Linked DNA regions of Homo sapiens. The protein of the gene in region 2 purifies or fractionates together with the protein of the main gene of each other region. This does not show direct contact. Each region holds a gene or a part of one and is shown on either strand. Other genes may lie near its edges. The genes, in order: MFSD8, KLRC4, EDNRB, SLC22A5, TSPAN15, SLC12A7 and SLC47A1.

Region 1 (4,309 bases), on a different chromosome or scaffold from region 2:
AAGACATGCAGAACAGACAAAATGCCTTCTTATGTTCCAAGATTAATTTCTTAAAAATAAGCCTTAGAACTGTCAAATTAGTCTTCAAAAAAGAAACTTTTTTTTTTCAAACGTGATATGGTTGGGAGTGGTAAAGAGGAAAGGAAGAAGAGAAACAATGTTTTTAGATGTATTATATGCCAAACATATTAGTTCCTAATATATTTAAAGTGTTTAACACTATATATGTCATTCCATATAAACAAACCTCTTCTGAGTCAAAGGAGATAAGAAAAAAATAAAAATAATGTAGCTTACCTGAGAAAAATACCAGAACCCTAGATGCCCATACTTTGAAATCAATATACTAGAATTTGAATAAAAAACCAGATATATCTAAGTTAGGGAATCAAGAAGTAAATTATTTGATTCTAAAAAAATAATAAAATTGTTTGAGTGACTGATTTAGAGCTCAGACAAAATCTTTCTTCTTTTAATGACAAATGACAATTATTAAATATTGAAAGGATAAAATTAGAAAATAATAATTTAATGGCCACTTTCTATGCTATAATGGAAGGATCATCAATGGATGCTAAAACAACTGACTGGAAGATTGTTAAGGAGAGGATAGTCAAAGGCCCTCAAATGTCACCCCAGTGTCTGCTTACTAATTACAAAATGGAACATGAACCTTTATAATTGAAAGATATAGCAGTCACCCTCTTAACAAGTGGTCATGTTTGGCATTCCCAGTAGTGGGATGTCCTGGCATCCTGTACCTTTTGATGTAATGTAGTGGGGTGTTCTCAACATAACCCATGTGATATTCTTGCCAGAAATGTTTGACCAGGATCTATTTTGAAATAAACAGTCCATAAATCCAGAATATTAGATGTTCTGCAGAAAACCTGACCTAGACTCTTCAAAGATTTTAATGGTGACAAGAAAGAGATAGGTCAAAGGATAGTTTTAGGTTAGGGGAGTCTAAAAAGACCTAACAACAAATGCATAAACATTGATTATCTCCTGCATATGGCTCCTGGTTTTTTTTATTTTTGTTTTTTTAAAGAATATAAGGTATATTTTTGGAACAATTGGAAAAACTTGAGTATTAACTATGTATTGCATGATATTCTTGAATTAATATTGTATTTCTAGTTGTAACAGTGATGGAGTTGCGTAAAAGAATTTCTTTGTTCTTGGGAGGTGCAAGCTGCAATTAAGTACTTGGGACAAAGTATCACAATGTCTGCAACCTACTTTTGGGTAGTTTGGCAAAAGAGGTGCGTGTGGGTGTGTATGTACCTGCCGAAAGATTTCGGCAGTGTGGAAAAGGCTAACAGTTAGTGACAGGATATACAGGTGTTCGTGATTTTTTCATCTTTTCTATAGATTTAACATTTTTCAAAATAAAAAGATTTACTTTTTCCTTTTTTAATTAAAAAAGTATAACTTCAATGAAAAAAATTATCTTTCTACCTTGTTGGAGACAGTAGAAATATAGGAGAATGCAACTGTCCTTCAATCAAGTGACCATATTTATTACATTTTCTTAGCTTTGATGATTCAGACAAATATGTCACATATCTGATTGAATTTCCAGAGGCTTCTTTCTTGTATGACCGGGTACAAAAAGGAATGCTGCATTTCTAAGATGATTTGCTTAACTTTTAAAATTCCTTTCTATAATCACTGCTGCATTCTGGCATTAGTTCCCCATTTGAGATTTTCCTTCCAGTAAAACTGTAGTACTACAGTTTTATCCTGTTCAACATTTCTATTACAAACTGAAATACTCCAAATGATAGCATGCTTGTCAAACTTGTGACTTAAAAACTAAAAGGAATACACAATATAGTGGAGTGAACTGATCAGCAAAATGAGTTAGATAAAATTTAACAACGGCCAGGCGCAGTGGCTCATGCCTGTAATCCCAGCACTTTGGGAGGCCAAAGCCGGGCAGACTGCTTGAGGTCAGGAGTTCAAGATCAGCCTGGCCAACATGGTGAAACCCTGTCTCTACTAAAAATACAAAAATTAGCCAGGCGTGGTGGTGGATGCCTGTAGCCCCAGCTACTTAGGAGGCTGAGGCAGGAGAATCACTTGAACCTGGGAGGCAGAGGTTGCAGTGAGCAGAGATTGTGCCACTGCACTCCAGCCTGGGCAACAGACAGTCTGTCTCAAAAAAATAAATAAATAAATAAGAGAGAGAAAAGAAAGAAGTGTGTGCTCAGTGACAGAACAGTGTAGTGGTATAACAGTTACAGAAATAAACTGAAAATATTCTATAAAGATATGCCCTATAAGGACAGATGCCCTAATAATACAAATTTTACAGAGACTAGGCTAAGGTTGCAAAAAAATTTTGAAATCATTTGTAACTTGGATCAGTAACGTGAGCTACAAACGGTTTTTACAGATGAATATTTATCAGTTTGATGACAGAAAACACCAACTCTGAAGTGCAATTAAGGAAAATGTCATCCCCTCCCCCACCAAATTCTATCCCTTTCATTAACAAACCTATATTATACTTATTATTATATTTTAAATGTCATTACTAAAAAATTTTGTGGAATTTGTTTTCTGGTTATCTAAACACCTATATAATATCCTTGATTTTTCCCCTTGCCCTAAACAAGCCTAAAATATTTACAATCTGGGACTTTACAGGAAATGTTTTCCAACCCCTGTTGTCTTAAATAAAGCTCCATAGAGGGGGTCAGTGGGGAGCACTGAGGATTCAAGAGGCCAGCTCCACCAGACCAGCAAATAATAATCAACCTTGTTAGTGAGGAAAAGTTGGTGGTGACCTAGACATGTTTGTGCAATATATTCAAAGTGAACAGGTCCTGCCAACTAGTTGTACATAGGTTCACTTTACTAGGGAATATACTTGTTTTTAAAGACATATACTTATTATTTTCAAAATACTCCCTTTTTGTTTTTAAAATGCTAAATCTAGAACCTCAATCAGAGGTATTGATTATTGGCAGGAACACCTAAATCTGGACAGATCCTAATGAGCATCAATCACTTTGATGAAATCAAAGCTAAGAGTATGAAAAAAAATTCTCTTTTGTACAAGGTGACAGAATGTACCAGAAGACCACATTTAAACATAACTCAGGGATCCTGCAATTATCTGGAAAATAGCTAAAAACCAGGACGAAGCAAAAAGAATTCTGAGGCCGGGCACGGTGGCTCACACCTGTAATCCCAGCACTTTGGGAGGCCGAGGCGGGCGGATCACGAGGTCAGGAGATCGAGACCATCCTGGCTAACACGGTGAAACCCCGTCTCTACTAAAAATACAAAAAAAATTAGCCCGGCGTGGTGACGGGCGCCTGTAGTCCCAGCTACTCTACTCGGGAGGCTGAGGCAGAAGAATGGCGTGAACCCGGGAGGCGGAGCTTGCAGTGAGCCGAGATTGCGCCACTGCACTCCAGCCTGGGTGACAGAGCGAGACTCCGTCTCAAAAAAAAAAAAAAAAAAAAAGAATTTCTGAGTTCTGAGAAAACCAAATGTCATGAAGTCCACGCACTCAAGCTTATGCACTTAACTAGTAGGAAAGACATTTAGCTCTCAGTCAGAACTACCAGGTTGTAATGACACACAGTTACATTAAGCATAGATCCAGGGTTATCAAAGCTATAACAAACAAGAAGCCCCAAATTAAAGCTGGTGGAAAGAGTATGGTGACAGCAACAACAATAAAACAACTGTTGCTGCCAGATTTCAAAAACATGATGCAGAACAGTCTGCGAGGAAAACAGTCTGTCAGAAAAACTAAAAAGCAGACGTAAGTACTTAAAAAGTATAGCAACGGGCCTCAGAGCCTATTGAGACATTTGGGACTGTTTGCTTCTACACCAGCACTTTGGGAGGCTGAGGTGGGTGGATCACTTGAGGTCAGGAGTTCCAGATCAGCCTGGCCACCTGGTGAAACCCTGTCTTTACCAAAAATACAAAAATTAGCCGTGTCTGGTGGCCCACGTCTGTTAATCCCAGCTACTCCAGAAGCTGAGGCAGGAGAATCGCTTGAACCTGGGAGGCAGAGGTGGCAGTGAGCCAAAATCGCACCACTGCACTCCAGACTAGCCCACAGAGCAAGACCCCGTCTCAAAAAAAAGTATAGCAGTGTAGAATAAATTGGTATAGAAGCAACAGTCCCAAATGTCTCAATAGGCTCTGAGGACATCACTCTATTAAAATTCATATCAGCATCGATATTCATTTTAATGATCTCAAGATAAAATCAAGTAAAGATAAAACTGCACTCCAGGCTCACCACTGCACTCCAGACTAGGCCACAGAGCAAGACCCC
Region 2 (4,953 bases):
AAGAGGAAGGCAAAATAGTTTGGGACCCCAGAATCAGGGATCAACAGAGTGTCCGGGCATCTTCAGTCCCCCACTCAGCAGAAGAAAGTGATCTAGTCCTCTGTTTCTCAGAACCAAATCTGGTAACAGGAGGTGGGTCAGCTAAGCCCATTCCCACTCTGTATTGAAAGGGAGTCCTGCCAGCAACATTAGGCAAGCCTGGTACCACTGGCAAGGATGACCTACCAGGAGGCCTGCTACCAGTTAGGAGCTAGAGGAAGTGCTTCTCCTCCCAAACCAAAAGACATCAGGGTAGGTGCGGTGAGAGGGATCAGCAAAGGAACCGCATGACTACACGTGCCCATCCAGGTTCCTCTTTGTTCCTGAGGGCACGAGACTCACTTCCCCATCCAGAGACACAGGACTGAACAGATTGTAAATGTTCTATGCACATCATGCAGCAATGAAAAGCAACAAACAACAGCTAACTGCATTATTGCACAAATATCATATAGGAGTAAAAGAAGACACACATGAAAATACACATTGTATGATTCCCTTGACATAAATTCTGGAACAGGCAAAGCTTATTTATCACATTAAACATCAATACAAAGGTTTGGAGAGGAGGCAGGAAAAGTGAGGAAGGCATACACAGGAGCAGGACTGCTGGGGCTGGAAACTTCTATTTCATGATCTGCCCTGTATCATGAATCCATTCACTTTGTGATCAATATGCATGACCATGACATGCTTAGTTTTCTTTATATTTATTTTGTGATAAAAACATTTATAGAAGCATGGGTTTCCATGAAAAGCAAAACTGGAAATAACCAAATGTGCATTAACAGTATATGAATATAAAAATATTATGAAGTCAGTTGAATACTACACAGACTTAAAAATATATGAAGTAAATATATGTATAAACATATGGATGATTTCTACAAATATGATATTGACAGAAATAAGCTTTTAGTAAAGTGTTGAAACATTTACGTCTTACCATTTCTTCCTCATTATCTATAGAAAGCAGATCAGAGTTCTTCGAAGCACAGGCCAGCAAACTCTTTCTTCCCAAGTTCTTCTTTCCTTACCAATGTAATAACAACTGTTGGAATATGTAATCCACTCCTCAGGACAATGGCCACAATGACGTGCTAAATAAAAATATGAATTACTATGCAAAACAATATGTTTACAAATGAAAATTATTTTATATATTTGCAAAGCTATAAACATACAGGTACACAATATCTGCATCCTCATAAGTTGTTAAATATATATTTTAAAATAACGAGTCACTCATACGCACATGCACAATAAAAGGTCCACCTCTCATCCCTTAATTGTGTTCCCATACAAAACAAGCCCGCCAACAAAAATCCACCCTACACATCTTAAACATCACTGAACAAAACTGCTTTTTAAGTATAGTAAAATTATTTATCTCTTATCATCTTATAGTAGTAGGAAATTTCAGTTAATTAAATGCAACAAGAGGGTATAATGATTTTAACTGAGCATTTCTACTTATTATTGGAGAAAAGGACATGCCCTCATATAATCTTTATTTTATAAACATTTATGGCTCATTGTTATAGTTTATTTTCCCAAAACATTTTATTATCATTTTGCATCCCTTTAGAGACAAAATATAAACTGTACTAACATCAGAACATTGACAATCATAATGTACCTTTCTGCATTCTTCTATTCAGGGAAAAATTGTTCTGCTCCAGTACTCCAATACCTAGAAAAATTAAAGTGATTCTTACAAAATTAATATCTAGACAAATTATAATAAATTCAGTTGCTTACTTTGAAATACAAAATTTAAAATTATTTTAAATTGGAACAATCTGAAATAAAAATGACTTTTCTATAAAAATAATGAGATCTTTAAAACAAATATTTTTAAAGCCATTAGCATAAAACTTCACCATCTCTTATAGTATTTGATCTAACCACTTTCAAAAATTAATTTGTTTTTCTAAATATTTTTTCTCTTAAAACATGTCTTTGAGTCATGAAATCAGAATACATCTCTCTGTGTGTGTATCATATATACATATATATTTAGTACACACAAAAAAATAAATGTTTTCTACAATTATTCTGTTATTTATAAATTTGAAAAGTTCAGAAGCAGCATATTATCTTGGGGTTCAGAGATATACATTAAACAGAGAATTCTAATCCTCATTATTATGAAATGTTTCAAGGCGCTTCCAATCATTATAGTGAAAAGTTCCCTTATAATCTTTCAAGAATATGCTTACAAGGAATAAGAACTATTGTTTTTAACACAGTGGCCATCAGGACAATGCAAATGATTCCTAGGACCTCAGCAGTGAGCTTCTCTGGAGGTGGCAGTAAACCTGCAGGGAGAGAAAGAGGCACTGAGAGAGGGGAGATAGAGAGTTGATGAGAAGGTTTACGTACAAGAGAACTCACGTGCACAGGAAAACATAATGATAAACTCTGTCCTCTAAATCTACATCTACTCTAGTAATCTTTCTCTCAGAATATACCATTTCATTATCAGTAAATATAATGCTCCATGAGTTGTTAATCACAAATTACAATTGAACAATGCCTGAATAAAATCAGGCTTCAGATTTCATATTAGAATATTAGATCCTGACTTTGACCTCTGATTCTCACAAGTGCAAAATATTCCCTAATCTTTCCCCACCTTTCTGCATTCAACTGCACATCCTAGAACAATAATATTGAAGATCTATTTAATGTTTTACCTTTGCAGTGATATGTCTTGTCATTCCCTTGATGATCCGAAGAAGCATTTTGAAGGTTTAATTCTACTTGGAATATTTCCTGTTTGGTTCCTGAAATGGAGATTTTATTGCCCTTAAGTTTCCTTTGCTGCCTCTTTGGGTCCTGGGCCAGACTCACTTCTGAGTAGGTTCCTCTTTGTTTATTCATCTCTGCAGCTGTGTGATGTCAGGGACTGTGCTCTATGATAACTGCACTTAAGAAGCTATAAGTGGTGTATATTTTGACAGGATCCCTGGTATAGGCAAACTGCATGTGTTGGAGGCTGAGTAGTAATGTTCATTTTGCTGTTGACCAATATAAAAGTCTGGTACTAATTTCCTAAAGTTTTAAACTGAAATCTCTTTAAACAATAGGTCACTTTTTAAAAGGCCTTCTATATTTGACATAATATTATTAATGGGAACAATAAAAAACAATACATTTGTGAAAACTAAGAAGTAACTGAATATAAATATCTTTATTAATTTAAAATCAGATTCTACAGAAATATTTTATCACCAATAGAATACCTGTGTAAAAAACTAAAATTGAAATTTGAAAATAAAATGCACTAATTGTATGACAATTTTAAAATTCATTAATGTAAGGATTGAGCGCTAAAGATGGAGGAATAATTTGTTGGCATATAGAACAACTTTTAATACTAAAATACATTAAGTTAGTGACTTACATTCGTTTACTAAAAGGGCATGAGGTCTTGGCAAATGTTTTTTATTCTGAATGATTGAGGAAAACAGAAAAATTGTTAAAATTTTAAAGAAATATTTTATACCTTGTAAAACATTACATTAACTTATGCATAAACTAAATACTACTGAAAAAGATTTAACTCTTTATTTTACAGAATTGATTGGTAATTGATTTAATGACTAAAATAGGAAAACTGAAAATGATAAATATAAGTTTGGACCATCTATGAAAGAACACTTTAAGTTCAAACTTTCAGAAAGACCCTGTGGTTGTTTTAAAAGGCAGCGAGGGTCACTTTGGTTGTGTAAGTAATTGTAATAAATCAGAAAATATAATTTAATAATCTAGTCAATGAGCTCTGTAGCCAGTGAGACCTAAAATTAATTACAGCTTTGAAACTCATAATGCATGACCTTTACAAAGTTACTTGGTGTCTACAACACCAGTTTACTAATCTAGATTGGGGAAAATAATTTATGAAGTATAATGTATATAAAACCCTTAACATACAACCTGGCACACATTAGTCCTCAATACATATTAGATATTTTAATTATTTTTAACACAATTGCCATTTTATTATTTCTAATTCATACTGAGTGTGTAAAATAACTAATGAGGTAGGAGTCTCATGTCAGTGTAGTACATCTTTTTTGCAATGTTTGTTTGGCTCAATTTTTTTTAGGTCGTCCTATTATTTATAATTAAGTTTAGATTTGCATTTTATGGAAACTACTTCATTATTACATTCTTAAAAAAATAAAATCTGCTTCAATTAAATATAAGTATGTGTATGAGAAATTATGTTTGACATTCACAATTTGATGTATCCATTAAAAATGCATTTTTAAAGTCTGGGCTAAATATAAAGTATTATTACATCTATAATGATTATAAAATTTCAAATTAATTCTTCATTGTCGTGATATTTATCGGTTTCACTCTAAATTATATTGATTAACAAACCTATTATGATGTATGCATGTGCTTGACTAATTCTCCACAGGCAATAATGTAAATACTTTAAGAAATCCTCAAACATATATTATATTTTGGGTTGCTTTTCACCCTGAATTATTCATGTACAGACAGTTCTACTTTGATTTTATTCTGTATTAACTTTACCTTGTTGCATCACATTTAATATTTACAATTTTCTACTAAAGGAGATGAGCTAGTAGAGAAACAGGAGACTAGCAACACATACCTTCTGTCATCAGAAAGTCACACGCCCCTTAGTGGAGAGGTCAGGTTACCTCTTAACGACACAAAAGACATCTGTGATCCGGTGAAACCCCGTCTCTACTAAAAATACAAAAACTTAGCCGGGTGTGGTGGCGGGCGCCTGTAGCTGCTTGGGAGGCTGAGGCAGGAGAACGGTTGAACCCGGGAGGCGTAGCTTGCAGTGAGCTGAGATCGGGAGCCACTGCACTCCAGCCTGGGCGACAGAGCGAGACTCTGTCTCAGAAAAAAACAAAAAACAAA
Region 3 (4,309 bases), on a different chromosome or scaffold from region 2:
AAAATAATCAACTATAGCATATTAGCTACACAGAGATACCCTTATATGGTTTTCTTTGTGAATTGAAGAACATGGCTCCCTGGCCTGGAGACAACAGGGTCTTGGCTACGTTATCCTTTTGTACAACTATGGAAATATCTTCAATCTTGAAAGACTCATTTTAAATGAGCAAACTGAGAAATGTAAACCTTTTGATAGATAAGCCTTACCATATTGAAAGAAAACCTTACCTTGACATTTGTAGAGGCTTGGATTTACGGAGTGACCAAGTGGCAGATCAAAGGCACACACAAGAAATACCATCAAATTGAACCTAGGGAACCTTGCATTGCCCAAGGCCAAGTGCTTACTGACCATTTTGTCACAGAAATCTATGACCAACATGTGAAACAGTGAATTGGGAATATGAAGTCTGAGTTTCTGGTTGATTTGAATTCTGCTATCAACCTGTTATCTGACTATGACAATACTTTAATACAGAAGGAATCAAGCTTTCTTTTTCTTTTTCATTTGGACATCAGTAAAAATATGAGTGGAAAAAGCCCACTACTCTTATGTCTTCTGTATAACATCATTTGTCTGAAGCATTTGTGTAGTATTGACAGTTGCAGCCACTATGATAGATGGGTGTCAGGGTATTTGCTGTATTGTTAACTGATTCCAGGTCATTCAAGCTAAAAGCCTGGCTTTTAATTAACACGTTTTAAAAGTTAATACTTTAAATGCACTTAATTGGTGCTCCTTAAAAATTATTTTGCTTTACATAAATCATACAGGTTCCACTTTTGGTTCAGAATGCTTATGCTGGTAAAATATCTTTAAATATTACTAAAATATTTCAGTTACTTGACTGGAAATGAGAACATTGTTATTAAACTGGGATAAATTAGACTCCTCTCCCAATGATACCCTTACTTCTTGTGTTGCTATATATGCATATGCTTCAGTTTACTGATTGGAATATGTGAATATACTTCAGTTTACTGACTGGAAAATTATAACTTCAAAAGTTGGTGGTGTTCCATCAACTTTTACTTTTAACTACAAAACTAGTTAATTATACATAAACTTGTTAAGTACCAGAAGTAGTCTAAGAGGATAGTGCAAAAGGTAAATTTGTTCAGAAAGATAATCCTGATTGTGTCACAAGCAGAAAATGTCTGATTACCTGCCAAGGTCACTTCACTCGAAACTCATTTGTGGGTTCAGTGAAGCAATTCCGCATTTTGACATACCAGCATTTTAATGTTATATGTTCCCACCCTTAACTAGTTAAACGTTAAAGATCAGCAGTTTTGCCTTTCAGAACTATGAATGCAGCCTCTTTGCCTCTAATAGTAGCCTACAGTTCTTAACTGTAAAACCATCTAGAAGCACTCCAGTGGGTCACCAGCCTAATTTCTAGCTCTCCATCACCACTGGACACCTGATTACCTTTGGATCCTTACCAAACTAGTTAATGTGGATATTGGTATTTGTCTTATCAGTTTGCAAGTAGATTTGTTTTTAAATGCAATTTCTTTACACATAAAGGAAGCTATATTTGAGAGCTAACTTCTTTAACTCAGTTATCCATGTAAATATAACATAAAGAGAGTTAATAAAATTCAGAAGTAATTTAAGAACTCACTATTTGCTCAAGAATTTTTAACTTCTCCCAACCTACAACCAAGTTTTGTTAAATATCATTGCCAAAGCAAACCAAGCCAAATCAACTAACCAACCAAACAACAACATAAACACATTGATAGCATCCCCAAGTATACCCGGCTGTCTTGCTTTTTATCCAGCTTTGATATCTATGCTTCTACAACTTAGTAGTGGAACACCAGGCTCTCATGTGAACAAATATCTAGATTACCCCATTTATTTTAGGATATATAGGAAGGGCAAAATAAGTAGCTTGTGAATAAGGAGAAATTCATCCTAACGTCAGGTAGTCAAGCACTGGCTTTTGGTTCTGATGTATATGTAGACTATGTAAATATTAAGCATGGTGGCCCATATACATATTACAGATAAACATTAATATGCATTTACATCCATATTGAGATATTATATAAAATAGTGATTAATACCAAGAGTACAAGAATAACTTTCTAGCACAATATGGCAATATCTTTCAAAATTACAATGCACACACATTTTGATTTAATAATTCCAGTTATAAAAATTTACCCTTCAGATGTAGTCACACATGTGTGCAAAGCCATATGTACAAACATGTCGTTTGTAGTCATGTTTGTCACGACAAAAGCTGGAAAACAAAGAATACTCAAAACGCACATACACACACATACACACATTTTAATAACATTTATCATTTCTTGCTATATGCCATGCCCTGTGCCAAATGATAGTCATCTTTTTACTTATATATTCTTATAAAACTTAACATTTTAATGTATGTACATGTACACGTGCATATATATTTAAATAAATATCTCCTTTGGATGCCTGAAGTTTTCATTGTTCTTCTGGTTGGTGTTGTGTAATGTAGGCATAGCCCTAGTGTGTGCCTATGAGAAGCGTAAGCAACGCTTATTATTTTCTGCATGTTTACATGAGTTTAAAGTTCTTCAGCAGCCTCAACTTGCTAAGTGTCCTCAGACACTTCCCTAGCCTTCAACACAGGATTTCACCCACAACACAGGAGACCTGTGAGAGTGGTATGATTCTTCCTAAAAGTTTCCAGGGACCCAGCTCCTTGAGGAAGTCCAGGCAGATCAGACATGTTTCCCAATGCTTTTCAGCTTCCCACTGCAGCAACTCCAGATAAAGTCCCACCAATTCCACAGCCTGAAGACTGTAGCTTCCAATAAGAGCTATGACATTTTGTGATTTGTCAACTTTACTGAACTCTATATTCATTAAACTCTAGATTAATGGAATAGATTCACATTGACATTTCTGGGCCTCTGGGCCCTTAGTGTGCCAACAAGAGAGTAGGAGAATTTCACAAACCCCCAGAAATTGTGTATATTGAATTCTCAAAGAGAATTATAAAACCCCACCAAAAAAATTAGAAATCACTGGTTTAGATTTAAGCCTCTCATATTAGGATATATTAAATATAGCCTTCATAACTCATTTAAATTACTTTTTTCTGAATGATCATACCTGACTACTCTGAAATTCTAAATGCATTAAAAAAACTACGTTGCCACAATTATTTAGGAGAATAAATGGCTTTTAACTGGTCCTGGATTTGATATTTTGGTAAATTAAGCCATTAGAATAACTTCCACTGATATTACACACTACAGACCAGCTGAAGGGGGTTTCAAGAGACCGAAATCCTGACTCAAATTAATTTCTGAAAATGTTTACCAAGTATTCTACTGTGGGATAGCATATTATTTGCCATAATTCCACCAAATGCTCCCAAATGAGATCCTAAAACAATACTCAAGGTTGGAGATGACCATGCAGTGCCTGAGCATGCTTTGTGCAGTGGGATGGGGTGGACCACAGGGTCTTGGGCTGGATGATCTGCTTTCAAGCCCCAGTTTCATTACTTTGTAGTGGTATGACATTAGGCAAGTTACTTCTTCACCTCTCTGACAAGTAGTTTGCCTAGATCTAAAGCAGGAATGATAACGATACCTCCTCTACAGGGTTGTTATAGTGACTTAATGAAATAAACCAAGTGCCTAGTGCATCATTAACTGGTAGCCATTATTATGATATTGTGTCTCAAGCTAAACCTAAGGCCACAAGGTAGGATTCAATAATGATGACCTTAGTGATGGGACGTAATGTGATGAATGTGTTTGTGACCCATGTAGATTAATGGATGGACAGATTTATAATGACTCATTGGCTTATTTCAGAAGTAAAAACACAGTCATGTTAAGACTGGATGGCTTCAGGGAAAAGGATGTAACTTCCTAGGGAAATCATATGGGAGTTTGAAATGAAAGGGAAACTGTATGACCTCTTGGGGAGTCAGAAATTCTCTAGTTTATTACAAATACTCATTTAACCAGACAGAGGAAATAAGATGGTTCTGGAAGAGCTGATTTATATCTGTCCTGGAGGCAGCACACCAGAACTAAAAAAATGTTCTCAATCCCACCTTCTACACAGCACTTCAGCTACTGTCTGATTTAGAAAGGTTTCTAACTGGGCTGGACATGTGGGGTTTCCTGACCCCCTAAACAGAACTTTCATAAAATCCTGTGCCAACCTAGCAAAACTAGATTTTAATCTCCCTTTGGGAAGAGATCTTGTTAGATTTATTTTAAATTTATCACAACACCTTGTACTGAAAAGTTCTCAATTCGGTTTTGATGAATTGAATTGAAAT
Region 4 (4,309 bases), on a different chromosome or scaffold from region 2:
GAGGAGATGGGTGCAAGATGGGCTCCGGAAGCCTGGCTTCTGTGCATGTCTATGTCAGCCCAGGCCCTGCTACACTCTCCTCCCTGTCCCCGGCACCAACAGAAGCTTCTGCACTGGCCTTTTAGCTTCTCTTCTCTCCTCACCCTACCCCTGATTTATCCAACAGATTAGTCAGATACTCTACCTAAAATAGCATGTTTGGCCAGGTGCAGTGGTTCACTCCTATAATCCCAGCACTTTAGGAGGCCAAGGCCGGTGGATCATTTGAGGCTAGGAGTTCCAGACCAGCCTGGCCAACGCAGTGAAACCCGTCTCTCCAAAGAAATACAAAAAAAATTAGCCAAGTGTGGTGGCAGGCACCTGTAGTCCCAGCTACTCGGGAGGCTGAGACATGAGAATCGCTTGAACTGGGGAGGCGGAGGTTGCAGTAAGTGGAAATCACGCCACTGCACTACAGCCTGGGCAACAGAGACTTTGTCTGAGAAAAAAAAAAGAAAAAAAAAGAAAAGAAAAAGAAAAGAAAAAAAGGAAAAAAATTAGCATGTTTATCAAGGCACTTGAGTGCTCTATGGATATTATTTTCCACCTTGCTGGGACCAGGTAGCCGCCCCCCACCCTCGGTCATGACTGGGCCCCATGATGTGCGGCTTACTCTCCCACTATGCCCTGAAATGCTCTCTGCTCCACTTGGGCTGGTGATCTCACCTTCTCCACCTGCAAGGGGTGATTCCCACCTTAGCACCTCTGCAGTGTTCCCCTCTTGGTCTGGAATGGCCTCTTCTCTGCCTGTTCAACTCCTCTACCTTGGTGGTGCAGAAGGAGCCTGGCTTCCTCCATGTGGCTACCCTGAGGACTCTTGCTTTTGGTGCCAGTGCCTGTGGCATGAGGCTTCAGCAGCACACAGCCAGAACTAGGGCCTACACTGTCCTGCCCTGAGGCTTGGGAACTTCCTACAGGGCATGCTGGACCCCATCTTCTCACAGCTACTGCTATTTTTCCCCACACTTGGGGCAACCCAGCACAGGGCTGAGAGCAAGTCTGTTGCTGTCATGGGATTCTGTTTTGTTTTGGCTCTTTTGAGTGTGGAGAAAACATTCTGAAATAATTTATAATCTATGCTTCCTGTCTCTGGGAGACAAAATAGGGATTCATGGGTTGTTGCTGCCCTCTAGTGAAGGCCAGACAGAAATCATCCTGCCAGTGGGCACATGGGGCACAAGGTCACACTCACCACCAGAGTGCCACGCATAGCACCCCCGGCATCGTCAGCGCCACCAGCAGCATCCGCCAGTCTCGGATGAAGTAAGCAAACAGTGGCAGCACCATGTAGCCAAATGCATAAAATATGCACACTCCTAACGTAGAGAATATTATACGAACTGACTTGCCAAGAATTTCTGTCCCTGTTCAAAACAAGGGAGGTCGAGTTAGCAGTTTAATTTGGGTTCCTTCCTTATTAATTTTTTATGGTATCTTTGTGAATACACAGACAAGAAAACAGCGAGAACTCTCTCTAAGTTCATGGCGCTAGGGAGCGGATGGCGTTCTGAACCCCTCCTGTCTGACTGTCTCCTGGGGGTACATCCCTGTGGCCTCTCAGGCCCCCAAGCAACAGTTCTCTCTTGAAAATTTCGCCATGTTCTGAAGCCATGTGCTAAAGATGCCATGGTAGGCCCCCTTTAATCCTCACATGAGGAAGAATTTATTAAAAGTGAAGTCATTACTAAGTCAGCACATGCTGACTTAAGCCTCAAGGAAAGAATATTAAATATAAAAAGAAAAAACAACCCTTTCAACAATACAACCCAAGGAACTCAAAGGCCTTATCAGCTAGAGTCAGGTTCCTCCAAACACAGGCCGGCCTGGCAGCTTCTCAGTGACAACAGGCTGGCACATTTGAGACAAAGCCCTGCAGTGTGCACTCTGAATTAAAACCCTGAAGGTGACGAAAGCCCCTTCCTATCAATTTATTCTTGTCCGTAGATATCACCAGCCACAGTGCTCTGCAGACAAGGGGTTCTCTACCTTAGCAAGCTTGCCAGTCACAGCCCCTCCTCCTCCAACCATGCCGCCCTCTTTCTGGGGCTGGCTCAGCCCTGTGCAGTGGCAGGCCCTTTTTGTAAATGGAGGATCTCTGGTGAGTCCTAGTAAATTGACCATCAAGTACTAAGACCAAGGAGCCACAGCCCAGAGGCCAGAAAAGAACTGGAAATCAGAAGTCAGGCCATTGTGCTGCTGGGGACCCCAGGCTGGTCTCATGTCTGGCTCAGTTTCCCTGCCTGTAAGTAAGGTTCACCAGGAAGCTCTGGCTAGTTTTGTTAGAAACCCTGTCCCCCTTGAGGGACATCACAGTTGTCTCCAGAAAGGTAGGTGATGGGATGATGGTGAAATACAGGATCAAGTACTCAACTCCAACCTGATGGCCATACCCAGGACAAATGCTGCCACATAGTTGGAGATCTGGCCCATGCCTACAAGGACAAACAGCACGACAAACATCTCAAAATTCTTCGAGAAGATCTGCAGGAAGCTGAAGCCTGTCTGCATGCCCATGGTCACGAACAGCACATTCTTCCGGCCAAACCTGGGAAGAAAAGGAGAGTGACAGATAACCAGCTGGAAAAGGGCAGCAGGAATGGGCTCCACCAAGTGGGGCTTTCTCAAGATCCATCCAGTAAGTGGGTGTGAACAGTGTTGCCAGAATACTGGCTGCCAGGGACAGTCTCGGTCTCACAGTGCCCATGCTATTTCTCCCCCTCCCCACTCCCCATGACAAATGTACAGCCTGGGTACCAGGGTTGCCTAAAAAGCAATGCTACAATTATGATAATGATTGCAAGAGACTGAAATACATCAATTATTTAATCCATACATTCATAATGATATTTTTTTTAAAAAAGAATCTGCCAAATTTGGAGAATAACAGAGAAACAATTCATTATAAATGAAAACTGGCAAATAAAGAGAAAGAAACATTTGTCCTGATTTTCCTTTGTAAACTATGTGAACAGCAACCAATAATAGATAAGAGGTAGTATCATGTACAAAAGTATTCTAACTTTTAAATGAAAAGGTAATAAAATTAGAATAATACCATTTATAGCCCCCAATGGATTAATAGATCTATGCATTATATACTAATTACTGTTAACATCATAAAGAGACAGTCAGGAATTGCATGCTTCCTATGGTCTGGCCAAAAGGACTGAACCTGAATCAGAACCTGAATCTCAAGTCTCTGGATCCAACTGCCAATTTTGAGGAAATGCAGAGCATAGAGGAATGTGCTGAACTGCATCATCAGTGTGCAATCAACAAATCCAGACTGGGAAATTCTATAGGTGGAATAGCTCAGGTTCTTCATAGATAATCAGTAAGGCATAGAAGGCGATAGAAGGAGAATCCATAGATTAAGTAGACTAAAAGACATCAAATATATTAAGTGGGCAACACTAAATTTGTGTCAAGGATGCATATTTCGATAATAAAACTAAAAAAACTCACAAGGAAGTGATTATTACAGGAGTCAGGCTAGCGGTTACTTAATGGGGAGAGAGAGAGGATGCTGTAATTGGGATGGGGCACATGGACAGGGCTTCTTAGTGGACAGCAAAGTTCTACTGCTCGACTTGGTGGTGGTCATAAGGTTATTTCTCTGAAAAAAATTCATTAAGCTACACATTTGTTCTGTGTGGTTTTCTGTATCCGTGCTCATTTTAAAAAGTTTTTAAAATTGGGTTTATTTTGGTTTGTTTTAAAGAGAGTGCCACAAACAGGAGGAAAAAGTCAAGCTAGTGGGAAGCAGTGGGTTCAGTTTGAGTCTGGCCAGTACTGGCTGACACCCACTTTCATTCAATGTTTATTGAGCATCTATTATAGAGGGCACTTGGATATCAATAAATTAAAAAAGATGCTGTTTCTGCCCTTAAGGAGTGTCATAGTATAACTGGTGAAACACATATTAACCACATTTTAATCTAACAACACGCTACTGAATATACAATTACACACTGAGTCAAGTGCACTGAAGGATCGGCATGCAGGTTAATGAGAGGCACAAGGAAGGAAGCTACCCTGGACTGGGGGTAAGGGTTGGGGAACTGGACATTCAGGGAGGGTCTCCTTGATCATGGGACACTGAGATGGGAAAAAATAGTTGACGATGGGGGATTTAAGGTGTAGGGACCAAGCTCTCAATGATATTCACAGTATAGTGCGGAAGACCAACATTAATCCTATAATAACACTTTTTTTCCCCCAATTTCTGGTAGACGTTTTAAAGGAAAGTCATAAGGAACTAGGGATCCTG
Region 5 (3,500 bases), on a different chromosome or scaffold from region 2:
TGTCTTTAACAGCCCTTCTCATTCTTAGTCTATGGCTCTTGAGCAGCAAGGCTAGAGAGGAAGGCAGGAAAAGAACGACTAATCCATGACTAGTTGATGGAGTGTTCATCATGTGCCAGGCACCACTCTAAGCTCTTCAGATGTATTAATCCATCTAATCTGCTTAGCAACTCTTCAGGTAGGTTAGGTGCATGGAAGTTATGTCTAGGCCACTTAACCTTTAAGTGTCAGAGCTGGGATTTGAACCCAGGCAACCTGGTACACAGCCCACACTCTTAACCATTAAACTATAAGAAATGTAAGAAATCACAGGCCAAGCTCTAATAAGCAGGTTCATCCTTGGAGAAAGCCCAGAAAGAGTTCCTATTGCCTCTGGCATTTGCTGCCTCCACCACCTACCCACCCTCAGCTCCTCCCTACTTGCCCCCAACTCCCACCAAGTCCTTTTCTTCCTGATTAGTCAACACTCCCCAGCCATGACACCTTTACCCACTTGAAAGTCCTACCCTGTTATCAAGGAAACAGGCTTGGTGCTCTGTGGAGAGTCCGTAGCACCATGATCAGCCCTGCCCACTTTGCAAAGTCAAGGCCTCAGCAGACCTGACCACTGCGGGTTACACCCCCAGCCAGGCCTCTGCCCCAAGCTGGATCCTCGCCTTGTAGGTACAAGTGGGACTCAATCACCATCATGCAACATGCCTCCCCTGAGCACCTACTGTGTGCACAGGCCCCAGGGGCAGCATTCAGAGGAGGATATGGATGAACTACAATCCTGACCTCTGGGAGCCCACAGTCCAGCAAGGAAAAGCAGTCCTGTAAACGGATCTCTAAGATACCCCGTGGGCAGTGCTAAAATTAGAGGTGTGTCCCCAATGGGCTGAGGGCGCATGTGTCAGAATGATTCACCCTGTGTGGTGGGAAAAGGAGGCTCTAAGTGCCTCAGCGTGAGCTCATTTCTCCCGCAGACATCCCCATGACTTACTGGAAGGGCCAAGGAGCACCTACCTGAGGATGCAGGGACCTGGGGTACATGCCAGCTCTGACAAGTGAGCCTCAAACACACCCTTTTGCAGCCCCAAAGTTCCCTGCCGAAAACAAGAGGGCCCTGAGTGTGGGACAGATAACCATAAGTGGTTTAGGGGTATACCTATCATAGGGACTTACAGACTGAGCTTTCCTCGTTCAATGCCCTTTCGACCCCTCCGATTGCATCAAGGAGCGGGTCTCAGTTTGGGTGCTAGTTTGTCTTTCAGCCCCTCAAGCACTTGCCAACCTACCTTTTGAACAGAGAGGGTAGGCGTCAGGGTCACAGCCTTCAGCACCCATGACATCCAGCTAGGATTTAGTATCATTGTTTTGTTTTCCCTGTACTGTACTTATTTTAAACCTTTACCTGCTATTTATGATGGGCGTCTTGGTTTCCCATTCATAATACTGATATAAAGCCTCCTTTTAAAAATAAATTTAAAGGCGTGCATATTCAGGGCAACTTGAACCTATGTGCCTGGAAAATAAAAAATATATACTTTAAAAAAGGGAAAAAAAGGAAAAGAAATTTAAGTTTAAAAAGGAAGTTTAGGCTGGACACAGTGACTCACGCCTGTAATCCCAGCACTTTGGGAGGCCCAGGCTGGTGGATCATTTAAGGTCAGGAGGTCGAGACAGTCTGGTCAACATGGTAGAACCCCGTCTCTACCAAAAATACAAAAATTAGCCCATCGTGGTAGTAGGCGCCTGTAGTCCTAGCTACTCGGGAGGCTGAGGCAGGAGAATCGCTTGAGCCTGGAAGGCAGAGGCTGCAGTGAGCCAAGATCACACCATTGTACTCCAGTCTAGGTGAAAGAGCGAGGCTCTGTCTCAAAAAAAAAAAAAAGTAAGTAAATTTAAATAAACATATTAAGTAAATAATATTACAATTGGTGTCACCTCTATATAGGACAATTTAATAACATCAAAATGTTAAATGCACATACAAAAACAGGCAAAGCTATTCTATACTGCTAGATAATCCAGTGGTGATCACCCACAAAGGTAAGAGATAGTGCCTAGAAGAGGGTTTGAGGGGTATCTGCCTTCTGCTGTCCATTCTGCTGGTTGACCTGGGGGCTCAGTGTACAGGTGTGTTCACTTTGTGAAAACTCATCAAGCTGTATATACTGATGGCAGGTGCGTGTCTGCATGTATAACATATATTCATATACCCCTTAACTCAACAACCCCACTCCTAGAATTACTCCACAGACATATACACCCATGCAAAATGACACATTCAGAGATACTCACTGTGTCACTGTTCTCAGTGAAAGAAAGAAAGGAAGAAAGAAAGAGACGGGGGGGGGAGAGAGAGAGAGAGAGAGAAAGAAAGAAAGAAAGAGAAAGAAAGAAAGAAAAGAGAAAGAAAGAAAGAGAGAGAGAGAAGAAAGAAAGAAAGAGAAAGAAAGAGAGGGAAAGAAAGACTGGGAACAACCTAAGAGTTCCCCAGCTGGGGACTATTAAATAAATGTGGCATAGCCTAGAGTGGAATCTATGTAGCCAACACACAGAATGAGGCAGCTCCTAGCAGATCTCCATAATTCACGTGGATTTAAATTTAAGTGAAAGAGGGGCTACATACGTAGTTCTGTGTATAGTGTGCTACCTTATTTTAAATATACATATGTTTGTCCTAGGACATCCTTTGACTACGATAGCTCAGAAAAGAGTGACAGGAAACTGATAACAAAGGCCTCCTCTGGACTGGGCAGGCCAGGAGAGAGGGGTAGGAGGGGAGGCTTGTCACTAACCACTACCCTTTCCTTTTTTTTTTTTTTTTTTTTGAGACTGTCACCAGGCTGGAATGCAGTGGCGCTATCTAGGCTCACTGCAACCTCCGCTTCCCGGGTTCTAGCGTTTCTCCACCTCAGCCCTCGCTGTAGCTGAAACTACAGGCACACGCCACCATACCCAGCTAATTTTTGTATTTTTAGTAAAGACGGGGTTCCGCCATGTTGGCCAGGACGGTCTTGATCTCTTAACCTCACGATCCGCCCGCCTCAGCCTCCCAAAGTGCTGGGATTACACCTCACCCGGCCTTACCCTTTTCTACTTCTAAATTTTGTAACAAGCCCATGCATGCATTTCTATCAGTAGTAATTTATTTTTTATTTTTTATTTTCTGCAACAGAGTCTCATGCAGGCTGGAGTGCAGTGGCACAATCTCAACTCACTTCAACCTCCGTCTCCTGAGCTCAGGTGATCCTCCTACCTCAGCCTCCCAAGTAGCTGTGACTACAGGTGCATGCCACCACGCCCAGCTAATTTTTGTATTTTTAGTAGAGACAGAGTTTCATCATGTTGCCCAGGCTGGTCTCGAACTCCCAGGTTCAAGCAATCTGCCCATCTTGGCCTTCCAAAGTGCTAGGATTACAGGCATGAGCCACAATGCCTGGTCAATAGTAATTTTTTTTTTTAAACCGAGTCTTACACTGTCACCCAACTACAGTGCCGTGGCACGATGTCAG
Region 6 (4,309 bases), on a different chromosome or scaffold from region 2:
GACCCTGACTTGGGAGTGTTGCGATGCCGGCAGGCTGTTGGAAAACTCTCCTCAGATGGCTGCCTGTCTTTTTGCAGACAATGCTGACCGCCATTTCCATGAGTGCGATCGCTACCAACGGTGTGGTCCCAGGTAAGGGGTGCCCGCCAGCCGCGGCCCTGAGTCCTGTTAGAGGAGTCTGTGTTTTGCCGCACGGCAACCGCGAGGAGGCCGCTTGGCGAGGCCGGGCCGGGGGCTGCCTGGGGGTCTCAGCCGGGCCTTCTGCGTGTTCTCCACTGGCTCCTCTGGCGTTTGAGCCGTGAGGTCACGGCTGTTTGGTTTTCTTCCCCATTTTGCTGCGTGGTGACCGTCTCTTGCCAGGGTAGGCAGTGCCCACCAGGCAGCGGGCTGGGGAGGGGGAGGCACGGGCGATTCCAGTGGCTCCTGTAGCCCAGCGTGTGCCATAGGCTGAGTTCTTGGAACCTGTATCTCACGAGGGAAGGTGAAGACAAAACACTGCCCTGACCTTGTTAATTAGTAATAAGTTAATTACAATACATAATAACTAAATAACTAGTGAACCGAGATGATATTAATTAGTAATAAGTTAATTACAATACGTAATAACTAGTAAACTGAGATGATACTGTTAATTAGTAATAAACGAATTACGATACGAAATAACTAGTGAACGGAGACGCTGCCACGTCTGCTTCTGAGTGCATGTGTGCTGCGCGTGTTAACGGCTGGGCTTGCTCAGCACCAGGTCCTCACGCAGCTGGTCCCCATCCCCACGGGGGCATCGCTTGGTGCTCAGCGGACTTCCCCGGCCTCAGGAGAGCACGAGGGCCTTCACCAGGGGTCTCCCTCCGCAGCCAAGGGACCAGTCTCTGCTTCACGATGGCCGCGTCCATTAGGACCCCTTCCACATGCCACACGCACTGCTCAGAGCAGGGAGAGCTGTGTTCTCCAGGCAGCCCTGGGGTTGCGCCCGGCTTTCCCGCCAGTGATAGCGTGCGTGGTTCACAGTACACGAGACGACTCCTGAACATCCTAGTTTCTCTTTTGCCTTTTTCATAAGCAAAACTTAGTGGAAGTGGGGGCTGGGGCTGCCACTGATGTACGCGGGACTTTTTCTGGGACCTGCTGGGGCCTCCTGCTCCCCAGAGAGCCTTATCCCTGATCTCACCTGGTCCTCATGTCCATGAGAGCGCGTGCTCTTGGTGTGGAACGTGTGCCGAGCCTCGGGAGGGGAGAGTTCACCGTGGAAGCGTCTCCATGTGCTGCTTTGCGGGTGGACGAGGGTCTACACGCTGCCTTCGCAGAGACAGGCCCTCCTTTGCCCGTGAATGGCAGCGCAGACCGCACCTCGGGTCCGAGTCCAAGTGCGCCCCTGACCCGCGGCTGCCGCCTTTGTCTCCGCAGCTGGCGGGTCCTACTACATGATATCGCGCTCGCTGGGACCCGAGTTTGGAGGCGCTGTCGGCCTCTGCTTCTACCTGGGCACGACGTTTGCAGGGGCCATGTATATTTTGGGGACCATCGAGATTTTTCTGGTAAGTGTGCTGCTTTGGAAGGGTTCCCACCCCACAGTCTGTGGCAGGATGCCAAGGGGCCCTGCCTGACCCACTCTGTGGCACACACAGCACACTGAGCCATCCTGACCCCACTGCCCTGGCTGCCCCTGGGCTCTCCTGGGCTCTGGCCATGGCGGAAGCCACTGGGCAGCGTCCACTCAGCAGCGACCTGTGTCCCCCTTGAGCACCATTGCTGCCCTCCGTGAGGCGTGCCTGGCATGAGCTGGGTAGACATCTGGACTGTAGATCTGAGCCCCGCGTAGGTGCAGTCCTGCAGTCGGAGCTGTTTTAGGAGCAGGGCTGGAACTCGGCTTAGAAGAACCTTTTGCCAGGATCCCAGCCTCTTCTCTGCCTGATCTGGGCACTTGGCCGAGGGTCCCAGAGCCCAGCAATGTACAACCAGGTGATGTCATCACCTTCTCAAAACAGGCATGCTCAAAGCATGTCCCACATCACCTGAGCACAGCTGAGAGCTGTGGCCTGAGTTCCTTGGTCCTCGTGGGGACGGGAACCGCCCTTCTCTGGCCGACGGGTGCTGTCCTTCCTGCTGAGGTTCTGAAACCCGCTGTCCCTGCAGGGCTTCAGAGACGCTCACCTGAGCCCCTGTCCCCAGTCTTTCTGCCCCTCCCTCTGCTGCCAGACCTGGTTCCTGGCCTCCTGGGTTCCTGAAGAGAGCCACATGGCCAAGAAGGTTCTGAAACCTTTCAGTGGGGTCGCACCCACACCCGTCCCAACCCGAGTCCCCTGGCCATGTCCCTCCATCTTTCCACCTGCCCCGGGTGCCGTGGCTGCCGCACTCCCAGGATCCCCTTTGGTGGGGGTGGGTGCCATGCCCTCCATGCCTGCTGCACCCCAGTCCTGTCCTGGTCTTGAGGGAGCTGAGCAGCACTGTCTCACGTCTCCGTCCCTTCCCTTGAATCTGGGCAGAACAGAGGTTGCCCCCCGCCGGCGTGGTCAGACCCTGTGTGTGTCCAGGACGTCCAGCCGGGGTGGGCCGAGCTCTCTGGGCAGCAGTCACATTCCTCTTAGCAGAAGGTGTTTCTTTTGAGTGCGGACATGCGGATGCCCCGGGTCCTGAAGTTGCTTTACTCTAAGGCTCCCGGGTGGTTCCTGGGAAACGTTCAGGCCCCTGGCTGTCCATGGCCTGTGCGCTGACCCCCGCGGGCTCCGTCCCTCGCCTGTGCGCTGACCCCCGCGGGCTCCGTCCCTCGCCTGTGCGCTGACCCCCGCGGGCTCCGTCCCTTGCCTGTGCGCTGACCCCCGCGGGCTCCGTCCAGCACGGATGCGTCCCGATGGCCCCGGCACCTGTTGGGAGGAGGCCCCTGTGTGGCGCTGGGGGCTTGCGGGAGGGACGGGCACTGGGGAGTTGTGTCCGGGGACGGCCTCCCGACCGGCCTTGTTCCCACAGACGTACATCTCCCCGGGTGCGGCCATCTTCCAGGCGGAGGCTGCAGGTGGCGAGGCGGCCGCCATGCTGCACAACATGCGTGTGTACGGCACGTGCACGCTCGTGCTCATGGCCCTGGTGGTCTTCGTGGGCGTCAAGTATGTCAACAAGCTGGCGCTGGTCTTCCTGGCCTGCGTCGTGCTGTCCATCCTGGCCATCTATGCCGGCGTCATCAAGTCTGCCTTCGACCCCCCGGACATCCCGTGAGTCTCGGGGCCTCTGAGCCGTGGGTGGGTGTGGGGCTGGGGCCAGGTCCCATGGGCTCTGCCCGCCTCTCGTCCATCATCCTTGACGCCGAGCTCCCCGCAAGGGGTGGGCTGGGTGTGACCGTGGCGGGAACCCCCGTGGGCTCGTTCTGGGGATTACAGGAAACCCAACGGTGAGGTGGGCCGAGGTACCCTCGTGGCCGGGTCTGAGCATGAAGACCCTCCTCAGTGGCAGGAGGGCTGGTGAGGGGTCTGGCAGGTTTCAGGGGTGGCCGGTGGCCCTGAGCACGGTCAGGTGCAGTGAGCGTCATGGGTGTGGCCCTGGCTGCTGCTGGGGCCTGGGTGTCTTCTCCCTCCCAGAGGTGCTTGGAGGGGCTCTTTTCTTGTCCTTTTGGAGGAGCAGCTGGGAGGCGGCCCAGGGTCCTGGAACATGGGAGTGGCCACCAGAGCCCGCAGGGAGCAGGTCCAGAAAGGGCCAGCAGCCAAGCCCCTTGAGGCTCCCGCGGTTTTGCCGTCTCTGCGTGGAGGGAGCCCCTGAAGGAACAGCCTCATAGAGGCCTCAAAACAGAGGGAGGCAGAACAGCTGCAACCCCACAAGCCCGTTTTAGGGAAGCACAGCTGCCCTCCCCCTCGGGGACCCGTCCTGAGACCCCCTGCCGATGCTTGACGCTACGGCCCTGTGTAGACTGTTTTCCACGTACAGGCCTGGCTTATACGTCGGGGGCGGCACTCCTGTGCTCTTGGCCGTTGGCACGTGGCACGAGGGTGGCTTGAACTCAGACACTGAGATTGTGACAGCTGACCCGGCCAGGACGCCGCCGAGGGCCTCGGGGAGGGAGCGGCTGCAGCGTGGCTGTGCTGGCGCGGGGGGAGGTTGCTGGGTTCCACCTCACTACTCGGCACCGCGCGGTGGAAAACGTGTGAATTGTTTACGTCTAGAACGCTTCATTTAGCACGTTTGGACCACGGGTGGCCGAACCATGGATGAGGGGACGGCTGTACAGTACAGCGTTCCTGCTGCAGCCTGGCCTGGTCCCCGGTCCCTGGTCCCCAGTCCCCGGTCCCCAGTGTGATCCCTGGCCCTTGCATTCCTGCTGCAG
Region 7 (4,309 bases), on a different chromosome or scaffold from region 2:
TAGACAGGAAGAATAAGTTTTGAGATCAATTGCACACCAGGGTGACTGTAGTCAATGTACTGCACATTTTGAATTAACTAAGTAAATTTCAAATGTCTCACCATAAAAAATAAGTGGTGATAAGTATGTTAATTAGCTTAATTTAATCATTCCACATTTTATACATATATCAAAACACCACACTGTACCCCATAAATGTATACAACTATAATTTGTCAATTTAAAGTTTAAAAGATATAATATAGAGAATTTAAATTATTTCCTTAATATTTTATACTGATTGCACGTTGCAATAATTTTAGACATATTGTGTTACATAAAATACATTACTTTAAAAATAAAAATAAATTAGATTTCTATAATATTTGCATTAGCTAGGCAATTGGCAAATCCAAACTATGAATCGCACCAGAAACTCAGCTAAATAATTTTCTGCACTATCATGCAAGCCCAATGAACTTTGCATTGGCAATACTATTCTTTGAACAACTCCTGTATTTTTAATTAAAATATTATTGAACTTGAGAAAAATGTGCCACATAAAGGAACATACTGAACTGGAAGTTCCCTGTAGGTATCAGTTGACTTCTCACCACCTCTGAGCCTGCCAAGTACAGATGAATCAAAACAAGCCACGCTTTAAGTCAGTCACTACTCACCCCAAAGATAAATGTCCAGGTTTTCATATCATCATTTATTAACTGCCAATATGTTCCAAATTATTATTTTAGAAATCAAAGCTGGGCAGTCATTTATTTCCGTACTTTTTAAAAAGATTAGCTCTGGTAATTTCAGATGCTGTGGATTAAGTTTTTTCTTCCAAATGTGGGAAGGTGCTCAAGTCCGCCCCCTTCCTTCTGTGCTGTTCACACCGACCACGTGTATGGCCTTGTGGGGAGCTCTGTGGGGGCACAGAGCTAAGGCTGCACAAGGAGGGAGGTGGAGGCTGCGGAGTGCGATGAGGGTGATGAGAAGGGCACTGGCCACCCATTGCCCTCCAAGGATCCAGCCATGCTGCTTGGTGAGCACATGGGGCACTGCTCTAGGATGCAGAGTGCCACCGTGAGTGCAGACCCTGCAGCACCCCACGCACGCAGGACCGCCTACGATAGCCCTGGCCCTGCAGAGTCACCCTCAGGGGCTCACATGCTGTCTCTAAAGAACAGCACGAAACACACTAAGGGGATGCTTCCAAATGCTTCTTCAGCGGTCCCTGCTGTTGCCTCCTTTAGAGAAGTGAGGGCTGGATGACTCAGGATAGGAGGTTGGTAGAAAGGGCATCTGTGCTCAAGTGTGTCAGCGTGGAAGATCGCCCGCAGGGGTGTGAGGGGCAGGACCACATAGCCTTGGGGCCCTGGCTAGAGCTGGAGGTCACCTCCTGAACGCCCCCTACACTCTCTGACAAGACACAGAATGGACGTGGGCGAGCTCCCGAGTTTCAGAGGTGAGCCTCAGTCAAAGACCCGTGTGCTCCGACGGTCATTTCCTGGGCTGGTGAGCAGCTAAGCCCTGCCTGCAGAGGTTAGAGCTTACCCATCACTCCAAGTGTGGTTGCAAACATCAGCGCGATCCCGATGGGGAGGCCAACCACATAGTACCCAATGGTATTCACAATGGCTCCAACCTTCTGATTTCCACTCCCCCTCAGAACACCACCACTCGTGCACTGCAGGCAGAGAGCATTCCATCACTGTGAACACATCCGGCGCTCTTGAAACACTCCCATCTCCCGAGCACTTCATATTCTGTGCTAAAATCCATGGTAAGGTGACAGTATCCTTCTAAACGAAATGTGGTAACAATATTCAATCTTCCTACCTATGCTGGCCCCTCCTCTCAGCTGAAATTTACCACCATCAGAAGATCATAACAGTGCTTAGGGGACTACTACATAATACTTACAGCAAGAGCTTCAAAGAGGTGGGAAACAGCATAAATTGGAACCACCTGAGCCACCAGATTAATGATGTCTCTGTTAGGAAAATAAAGCACGTGGTGATTAGGAGACAAAGTGGAGAAAGAAGTATATAGCTTTCTGGCTAGGCGCAGTGGCTCATGCCTGTAATCTCAGCACTTTGGGAGGCTGAGGCGGGAGGATCACCTGAGGTCAGGAGTTTGAGACCAGCCTGGCCAACATGGTGAAACCCCGTATCTACTAAAAATATAAAATTAGCCAGGCCTGGTGGTGGGTACCTGTAATCCCAGCTACTCAGGAGGCTGAGGCAGGAGAATCGCTTGAACCCGGGAGGCAGAGGTTGCAGTGAGCTGAGATCTCATCACTGCACTTCAGCCTGAATGACAGAGCGAGACTGTCTTAAAAAAAAAAGTATATAGCTTTCTGCATATTACAGACATGCACATGCATTGAGGCCAGCAGCCTAGTCAGGGACAGTTCACCTGTTGCTGGGTCCATAGAGGAAACTAACTGCATGTTGTATCTCACAGCTTTTAGAAAAAATAGGCAGCACCACACCCTTGTCTTCAAGAGATATGTTTCAAGTCCCCCAGTGGATGCCTGAAATCGCAGAGAGGACTGAACCCTAAATACATTGTGTTTTCCTTATACACAAATACATTATGATAATGTTAATTCATAATTTGGGCACAGTAAGAGAGTAACAACAGTAGTAATAAAGTAGGCCATAACCACATGCCAGCATCACTACTTTTGTGCTTTGGGATTACTAGCACTGTGATACCAAAACAGTCAATCTGAAATAACTAGCGGGTGGAAAGCACACACAGCGTGGAGATGTTGGACAAAGGGATGATTTCATGTCCCAGGCGGGACGTGAGATTTCCTCCTAATACTCATAACCGCACGCAATTGAAAACTTATGAATTGTTTATTTCTGGAATTTTCCACTTAAGATTTTCAGACCACCAGGCACGGTGGCTCACGCCTGTAATTCCAGCACTTTGGGAGGCCGAGGCGGGCGGATCACAAGGTCAGGAGATCGAGACCATCCTGGCTAACATGGTGAAACCCCGTCTCTACTAAAAATACAAAAAAATTAGCCGGGCGTGGTGGCGGGCGCCTGTAGTCCCAGCTGCTGGGGAGGCTGAGACAGGAGAATGGCGTGAACCTGGGAGGCAGAGCTCGCAGTGAGCTGAGATCATGCCACTGCACTCCAGCCTGGGCGACAGAGCGAGAGTCCATCTCAAAAAAAAAAAAAAAAAAAAAGATTTTCAGACCAAAATTGACTGCAGGTGACTAAACCTTGGAAAGCAAAACCAAGGATAAAGAGGGGTTACCGCATAGTCCATCTGGTCAGTGTAGACAAATCAAGGGATTTGGTGACATCCCTCCCCCGTTCCCCATCAGCTGAAAAGAAGTTTGGCTGGGCACAGTGGCACGCACCTATCATCCCGGCAAGTTTGGATGCTATGATCATCCTTCTTTTAAGATGATGCCACAGGCCAAGTCTGACTGTGTCTCCTAGTAAGCCTCAGTGAAGCACTACAGAGTAAAAATTAAGTTCCCTCTATGGAACGAAGGTTGGTAAAGGCCATAGATATATTCTGCAGAATTATCCTTGGTTCCTAGAAATGGAACCCCTAAAGCTAGAGACTTGGATTCTAACCTCTGCATGTGAAGGGAGATGAGAAAAATGCTGCCCTGACCTGGGGAAGCAGGAAATTCACAACACCCTTGGAGTGAGTTTTGTCACTCTAAACTAGAACCTAGAAGACTGTCTCCCAATAAATACTTGTTTAATTACTAAATAAGAAATCCAGCACTGGCCCAGGAGTGGTGGCTCATGCCTGTAATCCCTGCACTTTGGGAGGCCAAGGCAGGCAGATCACCTGAGGTGGTGAGTTCGAGACCAGCCTGACCAACATGGAGAACTCCCATCTCTTCTAAAAATACAAAATTAGCAGGTGTGGTGGTGCATGCCTGTAATCCCAGCTACTCGGGAGGCTGAGGCAGGAGAATCACTTGAAACCAGGAGGCGGAGATTGCGATGAGCCGAGATCGTGCCATTGCACTCCAGCCTGGGCAACAAGAGCGAAACTCCATCTCAAAAAAAAGAAAAGAAAAGAAATCCAGCACTGAACAAGATGATCACTTCCTCCTCACCAAAAAGGACAGAAATATAATTATTTTATTCAAATTTTATTTTTTGAATAGGTAACATGCACATGGTCAAAAAATGGAACAATATGAACAAGATAGTAAGCAAAGTCTTACTGCAATGCCCTTCCAGTTTGCCCCAGTACCAGCCCTGCCTCCTCCAGGTAACAATTCCTAGCACGTTCCATGTTTGTCTAGTGTCTATGAAAATATAAGCAAATACAAATGTATATT

What was found.
Region 1: the proteins of KLRC4 (region 2) and MFSD8 purify together in Homo sapiens (affinity purification with mass spectrometry; one large-scale study listed by BioGRID and IntAct). This does not show direct contact.
Region 3: the proteins of KLRC4 (region 2) and EDNRB purify together in Homo sapiens (affinity purification with mass spectrometry; one large-scale study listed by BioGRID and IntAct). This does not show direct contact.
Region 4: the proteins of KLRC4 (region 2) and SLC22A5 purify together in Homo sapiens (affinity purification with mass spectrometry; one large-scale study listed by BioGRID and IntAct). This does not show direct contact.
Region 5: the proteins of KLRC4 (region 2) and TSPAN15 purify together in Homo sapiens (affinity purification with mass spectrometry; one large-scale study listed by BioGRID and IntAct). This does not show direct contact.
Region 6: the proteins of KLRC4 (region 2) and SLC12A7 purify together in Homo sapiens (affinity purification with mass spectrometry; one large-scale study listed by BioGRID and IntAct). This does not show direct contact.
Region 7: the proteins of KLRC4 (region 2) and SLC47A1 purify together in Homo sapiens (affinity purification with mass spectrometry; one large-scale study listed by BioGRID and IntAct). This does not show direct contact.

The regions. Positions count from the first base shown.
Region 1 is NC_000004.12:127,958,362-127,962,670, forward strand, and holds part of MFSD8 (major facilitator superfamily domain-containing protein 8), read right to left. Parts: intron 1-4,309. UniProt on the Homo sapiens protein: Outward-rectifying chloride channel involved in endolysosomal chloride homeostasis, membrane fusion and function. Conducts chloride currents up to hundreds of picoamperes.
Region 2 is NC_000012.12:10,406,651-10,411,603, forward strand, and holds KLRC4 (NKG2-F type II integral membrane protein), read right to left. Parts: upstream 3,108-4,953; 5' UTR 2,926-3,107; coding exon 2,739-2,925; intron 2,361-2,738; coding exon 2,262-2,360; intron 1,733-2,261; coding exon 1,679-1,732; intron 1,140-1,678; coding exon 1,003-1,139; 3' UTR 734-1,002; downstream 1-733. UniProt on the Homo sapiens protein: May play a role as a receptor for the recognition of MHC class I HLA-E molecules by NK cells.
Region 3 is NC_000013.11:77,912,009-77,916,317, forward strand, and holds part of EDNRB (endothelin receptor type B isoform 1 precursor), read right to left. Parts: intron 1-4,309. UniProt on the Homo sapiens protein: Non-specific receptor for endothelin 1, 2, and 3. Mediates its action by association with G proteins that activate a phosphatidylinositol-calcium second messenger system.
Region 4 is NC_000005.10:132,382,422-132,386,730, reverse strand, and holds part of SLC22A5 (organic cation/carnitine transporter 2), read right to left. Parts: exon of another isoform or gene 2,585-4,309; coding exon 2,430-2,584; coding exon of another isoform or gene 2,411-2,429; intron 1,404-2,410; coding exon 1,232-1,403; intron 1-1,231. UniProt on the Homo sapiens protein: Sodium-ion dependent, high affinity carnitine transporter. Involved in the active cellular uptake of carnitine. Transports one sodium ion with one molecule of carnitine.
Region 5 is NC_000010.11:69,454,465-69,457,964, reverse strand, and holds part of TSPAN15 (tetraspanin-15), read right to left. Parts: intron 1-3,500. UniProt on the Homo sapiens protein: Part of TspanC8 subgroup, composed of 6 members that interact with the transmembrane metalloprotease ADAM10.
Region 6 is NC_000005.10:1,084,129-1,088,437, reverse strand, and holds part of SLC12A7 (solute carrier family 12 member 7), read left to right. Parts: intron 1-77; coding exon 78-132; intron 133-1,404; coding exon 1,405-1,535; intron 1,536-2,964; coding exon 2,965-3,206; intron 3,207-4,309. UniProt on the Homo sapiens protein: Mediates electroneutral potassium-chloride cotransport when activated by cell swelling. May mediate K(+) uptake into Deiters' cells in the cochlea and contribute to K(+) recycling in the inner ear.
Region 7 is NC_000017.11:19,564,453-19,568,761, reverse strand, and holds part of SLC47A1 (multidrug and toxin extrusion protein 1), read right to left. Parts: intron 4,240-4,309; exon of another isoform or gene 4,133-4,239; intron 1,973-4,132; coding exon 1,903-1,972; intron 1,667-1,902; coding exon 1,534-1,666; intron 1-1,533.